Regions from separate parts of the Homo sapiens genome. Here region 2 is linked to region 1. The links come from fine-mapping of genetic effects on gene expression. A gene starts in region 1. The other region holds a variant in brackets. All regions are shown on one strand. Distances are between the middles of the regions.

Region 1 (4,396 bases):
ACTTTGGAATTTAAACACCAGTGCTATGCAGTGGACTCCCAAATCTCTCTCCAGCCCAGGCCTCTCCCAAACTCCAGATACATGTGCCCAAGTGCCCACTCAGACTCTCCAGCAGGGCGTCGGTGGATACCACACAGACCACACCAACTCCTGCCTTCTGGAATCCTCTCAGCTGCCCACAGCAGGTGAGGGTCGCTCCATCCTCCCAGGGGTTCTGGGTGGAGACCGCAGGCTCTCCTGGACTCCTTTCCTTCCCTTACTCCCATATCTTATCTGTCAGCAAATTCTGGGGCTTCTATTCTTAAAACCTGTGCAGGTTCCCACCACTTACCTCCTCCTCCAGTGACGCTATCTGCTTCTCACACTGGCTGCTCCCTGACACCTACTTCCTCCCTCTGCTCTGTGTCCCCGCCCAGCACCCAAGCATTCCTGTGACCCTGTACAGCCAGTTGCACCATCCTCTGCTCAGAGCCTCTCTGTGGGTCCCACAGTCTTCATCAGGGCTTACATCACCTGACTCCACTCTAGGCCACCGGCCTCGGCACATACCAGATATATCTGGCTTCAGGGCTTTTGTCCTGGCTGGTTCCTCCATCTAGAGCACTGTTCCCCAAAATCACCCACAAAGCTTTTCCTTCACCTCCTCAGAGAGACCTCCCCTGGCCCACTCCTGTCCCACTCCATTATGTGTTTTTCATAACAATTTTCACAGCCTGACTTATGTTAAGGGCCTACTTATTTGCACGTTGCCTTTGTCTGCTTCTAAACATTACATGAAAAGTGTTTGTCTCTTTTGTTCCCTGCTGTATCCCCAGCAGCTAGCATGAACCCGAATGCTGCCAACAACCAGTAAATGCTTTTGGAAAAAATAATGGGTGTACAACGGAAGTTTGGATGGAGGAAAACCTGCAAAGCCTTTCACAGACTAACCCCAGCCATGGCAGCAGTGCTCAAGTGTTCCCTGTGGATAGAGGGTCTGAGGGCCACAGAGCCAAACAACACGGTCCACTCACCATCCCGGAAGCTTGCTTGAGCCTGACGTAGACTGTGAGGAACTAGGATTCCAAACCAGTTCAGGGGGTCCTGAGGGGCCTCAGAGGACTCCGGTTCTGGGGTCTTAGTGGGGCCCTTGCGCCTCCGCAGACCTGAGGAAAGAAAGGTTGGAGGAGGCTGGGATCTTACTCCCTGACCTTTATCATCTTGGTGACAATGTTGAGCTTGATCTGAGCTCATGATTCTATAAAACACTGTTGGTTGGAAAATTCCAACTTTGGGGTTCCAGGAAACAGCTTACCACAAAACACAGCCTTTCCCCTTGTGATTCAGATGAGACTGTTTGTCCACTCTTTCCCGTGACTCCTGTAAGACCCACTGATGACCCTGTTTGCCTGTGACACTGATCTTACCCATTGTACCTGAACATGCCAACAGACCAGACATAGACGTTCCAACTCCCCATTCTTTGTCTCAGGATGATTAACTGGGATTAGAAGTTTGTCCCTCTGAAACTAGCTAGACACACAGATAAATATTTTCTGTTCAGCTGACTGAAATGTATGTGATTGTAAATCTATTCCCAGTGTAAAGCAACTCACCAACAATTTCTCTACTTCCTATAAAAGTCTAAGGCAAAACCACCCTACAAAAACATTCTGTTCTTCTGCTCTGGGATGCTCTCTCTTATCGCAAAAACCTAATTTAAATCATCTCCATAATTTGCATTTTGTCTTTGACACTGGGAAGGGGTTCTGCAGAAGGAAGAGGGGGCTCACCTGCTTCGCGAGGCCCCACCTCCTCTGGGGCGTGGACACCAGCTCTCACCACCTTGAACTTCTGGAGTCCCTCCTGGGCCTCGCTGAAGGACGAGAAGGGAGGATGGAGCTTTGGCAGCCCGGGCCTAGAACGCGCCCGCCCGCCCACCCAGCCCAGCATGGAAGCTTCCTCACCTGGCGTGGAGGCAGACCTGGGGCTCCATGTGGGAAGCATACTGCAGGGGCCCTACCGACTTGGCGCCCATCGCGTAGCGAGCCTTGGCGAGCGAGAGCCAGCCCTGCAGGGAGAGGAAAGCGGTGAGACTCAGTTTACGCCCGTGTACCCTCCTGCCCGCCCCAGGCGCCTACCTCCTCCACCCGGGCGTTCAACACCGTTCGTTTCCCCTCCAGCTCCTCCAGGTCCCCAAGCAGCTGCAGGACCAGCGAATCCAGCTCCGCTCGCAGGTCAAGCGCCGCCATGGACACACCTCCAGATCTGGAGCCACCTTCTTCCTTGTCACCCTCCGCAGTTTGGCAGGACAGCCAATAGGCACACGAGATCCTCCATCAAGGGGCGTTCCCATCTGGGGATCCCCACGCCGGCAGCACCAAGGCCTCTGGGTCAGCTTCTTTAAGGGCAAGCGCCCTTAGAGAAGCAGCACGGAAGCAACCAATCAACTGGTTTCTCCAATTAGCCCCCAAGTGGATCAGCCTGCTGAACTGTCGGCTAGGGTTATAGGTGGTTCTGAGTCCTTCCGGAAGCTGCCGAATCTTAGAAGTCGCGCCACTGTTGTGGCGATGGAAGAAGGCGAAGCTCTACAGAAACCATTTTGGTTGAGGGAAGAGTGGTTTTAAAGTTAATTTGGAAAGGAGCCGGCAAGCAACCTTCAGTCGGTGTGCGGTTTTTACAGTTGAACTGTTTCCAGCCGCTAATTATGATTGTTTTAGCGGTTCGTCATCTGAAAACTGCATTCTGCACGGCGGTGGTGGGGGGAGGACGAGGATGGAGAAGCCTGGGCGGACATATTTATTAGCTGCGGTCCTAAGTCACGTGTGACATTCTGTATCCAGTCTATCGGTTATCCCAAGGAGAACGCCCTGCCGGAATGGCCAATCGCCTTGAGATGTCCCCGCCCTATTCGCCATCTTAACATAGGGCATTCCCCACAGCTGCAGGCACCAGTGAAGCGTCTAAGGGACCATCTTGGTTGAGGGCGGAAGTGAGGACTGTGTCGCGCTGGAGGAGCCCACAGATTCTCCCGGACCCACGTGGAAGCGGCACTCAAGATGGTAGGAGAATGAGCTCCTGTTTCGGAGGTCCGGGGCGCGTGAAGTGCTGGGGATGTGGCTCTGGGGACTTGGAGGCTCAGCGGCTCCGGGGCTCCGGGGTTCCGGGGCTCGGGAGCGAGTAGTGAGTGACTGGGCCTGCTGTTCCCACAGCTGCGCCGCGAGGCCCGCCTGCGCCGCGAGTACCTGTACCGCAAGGCCCGGGAGGAGGCGCAGCGCTCAGCCCAGGAGAGGAAGGAGCGGCTGCGGCGCGCGCTGGAAGGTAAGGCATCGGCCCCGCGGGCGTCTGCGTGGTAAACCACCCCGGCACGCATTTGTGTTCGAATATCCGAGCGTCTTTCCAAATGCTTGCCGGCCGTTTTCCTTGCCCATTGGGTTCTCCTGTTGGTTTTGAGAGTGTTTCTTCCGTGTGATGGTATTAATTACTTGTCACTGACGTTGCAGTACCCGGGTTTTGCAGCTTGCCCGCTGTGTGCAGTGTGTCAAGTTCGTCCCAAGTTTTAAAGACTTTATCTTGTCCTGTAGAAATTCTCTTTAGAGCGGTGGCTCACTGCTGTAATCCCAGCACTTTGGGAGGCCGAGGCGGGCGGATCATGAGGTCAGGAGTTCGAGCCTGACCAACATGGTGAAATCTCGTCTCTACTAAACATACAAAAATTAGCCGGCCGTGGTGGCACGCGCCTGTAATCCCAGCTACTCAGGAGGCTGAGGCAGGAGAATCGCTTGAACCCGGGAGGCGGAGGTTGCAGTGAGCCGAGATCCTGCCACTGCACTCCAGCCTGGGCAAAAAAGCAAGACTCCGTCTCAAAAAAAAAAAAAAAAAGAAATTCTCTCTAAAGACTATCTGGATAGCGCTGGTGCTGCAGACTGCGCTGCCCATCCTCCCTGCAGGAGTTCCTCTGAGCTCCGTGGGGAACAGTGCTGGCCCCGAGTGCGCACCTGGAGCGCTGTGCTCTGCGGTAGGCAGCCTGTGGTCCAGGGCCCGCTGAAGCCATGCCTTCGAAGCGCTGTGGGCATCGTGACCAACGGTTTTGCTGTCTGAGAGCTTAAAGGTCTCTGGTCCACCATCATACGTACAGAACAGTCTATATTTCTTTTCAAAAGTAATTTTTAAGGCCGAGCGCTGTGGCTCACGCCTGTAATCCCAGCACTTTGGGAGGCCGAAGCGGGTGGATCACGAGGTCAGGAGATCGAGACCATCCTGGCTAACACGGTGAAACCCCGTCTCTACTAAAAATATAAAAAATTAGCCGGGCGCCGTGGCGGGCTCCTGTAGTCCCAGCTACTCGCCAGCCTGAGGCAGGAGAATGGCGTGAACCCAGGAAGCGGAGCTTGCAGTGAGCCGAGATGGCACCACT
Region 2 (4,396 bases), 22 kb after region 1:
GGTGCAATCATAGTTCACTGTAACCTCAAAATCCTGGGCTCAAATGATCATGCTAGCGCAGCCTCCCTGAGGAGTTGGGACTACAGGCATACACCACCGTGCCTGATTAATTGTTTTTTATTTCTTGTAGAGATTAAGTCTCACGTATAATCCAGGCTGGTCTCGAACTCCTGGCCTCAAGCTGTCCTTCCACCTCGGCCTCCCAAAGTGCTAAGATTACAGGCATGAGCCACTGCATCTAGCCAGGACTTACTTTTAAATCTAATCTGACAGTCTCTGCCTTTAATTGGAATATTCAGCCTTTAATGTAATTATCAATAATGTTGGGTTTAAACCTACCATCTTGCTATTTGTTTTCTATTTGCTCTGTTTGTTCTTTTCTTCTTTTTTTCTCTTTCAGAGTGAGAATTTTTTATTAATCTATTGCATAGTAATTATTCCCTTATTAGCTATACATCTTTATTTTAAATATTTAGTTGTGGCTTTAGGGTTTACAATATATATCTTTAACTTATAGTCTATAGTCAAATAATATTCTACATTTCATGTAAAATGTCAGAACTTTACTGTAGTATATTTCGATTACCCCTTTCCATGCTTTGTGCTATTGTTACTATATATTATAGTTCTATATATAAAATATACTCCACAGTACACTGCTATTATAGTTGTTTTAGAATATCTTTTTAAACAGCTTTATTGATATACAATTCAGTCATTTAAAGTGTACAGTTCCATCATTTTTCTATATTCCTGAGCTATGCAACTATTACCACAGTAAGATTTTTGTTTTTGTTTTTGTTTTTGTTTTTGAGACGGAGCCTCGCTCTGTCCTCCAGGCTGGAGTGCAATGGCGCGATCTCAGCTCGCTGCAACCTCCGCCTCCCGGGTCCACGCCATTCTCCTGCCTCAGCCTCCCGAGTAGCTAGGACTACAGGCGCCTGCCACCACGCCCGGCTAATTTTTTGTATTTTTAGTAGAGACGGGGTTTCACCGTGTTAGCCAGGATGGTCTCAATCTCCTGACCTCGTGATCCGCCCACCTCAGCCTCCCAAAGTGCTGGGATTACAGGCATGAGCCACCGTGCCCGGCCTACCACAATAAGTTTTTGAACATTTTCATCATTCCATAAAAAAATCCAGGCCAGACATGGTGGCTCATGCCTGTAATCCCAGCACTTTGGGAGGCTGAGACTGGTGGATCACGAGGTCAGGAGATCAAGACCATCCTGGCCAACATAGTGAAACCCCGTCTCTACTAAAAATACAAACATTAGCTGGGCATGGTGGCATGTGCCTGTAATCCCAGCAACTCGGGAGGCTGAGGCAGAAGAATAGCTTGAACCAGGGAGTTGGAGGTTGCAGTGAGCTGAGATTGTGCCACTACACTGCAGCCTGGCCACAGAGCAAGACTGTCTCTCAAAAAAAAAGAAAAAGAAAAGAAATCCTATATCCATTAGCAGTCACTCCCCATTTCCCAGCAACCTCTACAGCCCCAGACAATCCCTAATCTATTTTTGCCTTTATACATTTGCTTACTTTGGACATTTCATATAATTGAATCACATAATATGTAGCCTTTTTTTGCTTAGCATTTTTGTTTTGTTTTGTTTTGTTTGCTGAATACTATTCCATTGAATGGATCTACCACATTTTACTTATTGGTTGACAGAAATTGGGTTCTTTCTACTTTTTGGCTATTATGAACAGTGCTGCTATCAACACTGATATACAAGTCTCTGTGTAGATGTGGGTTTTCATGTCTCTTGGGTATTGCTGGGAATTGCTGGGCTATATGGAAACTCTATTTTTAACATTTTGAGGAA[G/C]TGCCAAACTGTTTTCCACAGTGGCAGCATCATTTTACATTTCCACGGCAATGTTTGAGGGTCCCCATTTCTTCTCCCTGATGCTTGTTACTGTCTTTTTTTTTTTTTTAATTATAGCCATCCTAGGGGTTGTGAAGTGGTATGCCATTGTGTCTTTCTTTAAATTATGTGGTAAAATATACATAACATAAAATTTGCCAGTTTATAGGTGCTGTGAGGAATGTTAAAAATAATTTTGCCATTTAAACCATTTCAAGTGTACAATTCAATTGAATTAAGTACATTCACAATGGATTAACCATTCCTACTGTCTATTTTCAGAACATGTTCATCATCCCAAACAGAAATTCTGTATTCATTAAACAATAACTCCCCATTCCCCCATTTCCAGGTAACCTCTATTCTCCTTTCTGTCCCTATGAATTTGCCTATTCTAGGTACCTCATGCAAGTGGAATCAGGAATACACTAATATACAATACTTGTCCTTTTTTCAAGGTTCATCCATGTTGCAGTGTGTATCAGAATTTCACTGTTTTCAAGGCCAAATAATATTTCATTGTATGTATATATCACATTTTGTTTATCCATTCGCCTGTTGGACATCTGGGTTGTTTGTACCTTTTGACTATTGTAAATAAGGCGGCTACAAACATTGGTATACAGGCTGGACACAGTGGCTCACGCCTGTAATCCCAGCACTTTGGGAGGCCGAAGCAGGCAGATCACGAGGTCAGGAGATCGAGACCAGCCTGGCTAACACGATGAAATCCCACCTCTACTAAAAATACAAAAAATTAGCCAGGCGTGGTGGCAGCCGCCTGTAGTCCCAGCTACTCGGGAGGCTGAGGCAAGAGAATGGTGTGAACCCATGAGGCGGAGCTTGCAGTGAGCCGAGATCGCACCACCGCACTCCAGCCTGGGCGACAGAGCGAGACTCCGTCTCAAAACAACAACAACAACAACAACAAAAAATTGGTATACTAGTATCTGTTTGAATCCCTGTTTTCAGTTCCCTGGGTATACACCTAGCATGGAATTGCTGGATCATATGATAACGCTATGTTCAACATTTTGTTTTCCACAGTGGCTGTACCATTTTACGTTCCCATCAGCAGAGAGAGAGAGAGGGAGGGAGGGACATGTGTAGTTTAATGACAGGGATATGGTCTGCATTGTTAAGACTATCTTGTCATTGTGTAAACATCATAGAGTATACTTACACAAACATAGATAGTATATACATTTTTTATTTATATATTTTTCATATGGAAAACCAAATGTCCCAGCACCATTACTGAGTATCAATCATTTCCCCAACTTAATATGCAGTGTCAATATCAAGTGCCATGTATCAGGTTTCTACATATGCTCCATTATAATCTATGGCACCACCATTGTATATGTGGTCTGTTGTTAACCAAAACATCATTATGTGGCATATGACAATGACATATATGCCATCCTAATGAGTGGGAAGTGGTACCTCATTGTGGTTTTGGTTTTCATGTGCTTATTCGTCCATTTGTATATCTTCTCTGGCCAAATGTCTATTCATGTCATTTATTCATTTTAAAATTGGGCTATTTGGGGTTGTCTTTTTATTATTGAGTTGTAAGCGTTATTCTGTATATAAGTCCCTTATCAGTACATGATTTAAAATGTCTTTCCCATTCTGTGGGTTGTCATTCCACTTTCTTGATGGTGTGTTTTGAAGCACAAACATTTTGTGAAACTTTAATTCCAATCTATTGTGTTGCTGTGCTTTTGGTGTATCTGAGAAGTCATTGTCTAATCAGAGGTCATAAAGACTTACTCCTGTTCTTCCTTCTAAGTGTTTTATAGTTTTCTTGCTTACAGTTAGGTCTCAGATTTACTTTGAATGAACTTTTGTATGTGATGTGAGATAGGGGTCCACATTCACTCTTTTGCATGTGACTATCCAGTTGTTCCAGCACCATTTGTTGAAAAGACTATGCTTTGCCCATTGAACCGTCTTGGCCCCTTTGTTGAAAATTAATTGGCCATAAATATAAGGGTTTATTTCTGAACTCTCAATTTTATTAAGCTGATTGATGTGTTTATCCTTGTGCCAGTGTAACATAGTTTTGATTATTATACCTTTGTAGAAGTTCTGAAATCAGGAAGTATGAGTCTTCCAAATTTGTTCTTTTTTCCAAGATTGTTTTGGCTATTTTGGGTAGGTCCCCTGCTGTGCAGAAGAGTTAAACATGGCAAGCATAAATGTTTATGCTTAGAAAGGCCTTCCTGTAAGGTTGACTCTTGGGTGGCCTCTAGAAACCTAGGTTTCTGATAACAGTGGCTCACTATGCCTGAACTGTTAATACAAACAATATGCTTTATGCAGAACACCTGTTCTCCTGCTGGTAGTCTGACATTTTGGTACAGGCTAGGCAGAGTGTGCCTACATTCTGTGCAGACGGTGCCCCAATAAAAATCCTGGGCACTGAGTTTCTAATGAACTTTTTTATGAAACGCTGTTGAGTTTTGTCAAATTTTGTTCTTTGCATCTATTCAGATGATCGTGTGTTTTGTATTCTACTAATATGGT

The links. PIP is the estimated chance that this variant, and not a neighbour inherited with it, causes the effect.
Region 2: its variant is fine-mapped to the expression of VMA22 in whole blood (TOPMed, PIP above 0.99).

The regions. Positions count from the first base shown.
Region 1 is chr2:130,339,895-130,344,290 of GRCh38, forward strand. VMA22 (vacuolar ATPase assembly factor VMA22) reads right to left here and starts at 2,270. Exons shown (of 5, transcript NM_032357.4): 1 at 2,121-2,270; 2 at 1,947-2,050; 3 at 1,773-1,855; 4 at 1,014-1,145. The coding sequence starts at 2,231. It overlaps IMP4 (IMP U3 small nucleolar ribonucleoprotein 4), which reads left to right and starts at 3,003. Exons shown (of 9, transcript NM_033416.3): 1 at 3,003-3,041; 2 at 3,192-3,300. The coding sequence starts at 3,039. RefSeq lists enhancers at 2,186-2,735, 2,866-3,035.
Region 2 is chr2:130,362,026-130,366,421 of GRCh38, forward strand. The region is part of intron 5 of PTPN18 (protein tyrosine phosphatase non-receptor type 18); the gene reads left to right. Among named protein-coding and RNA genes, the nearest start is that of PTPN18, 8.2 kb to the left of the region's middle. The variant G/C (reference allele first, on the strand shown) is at 1,826.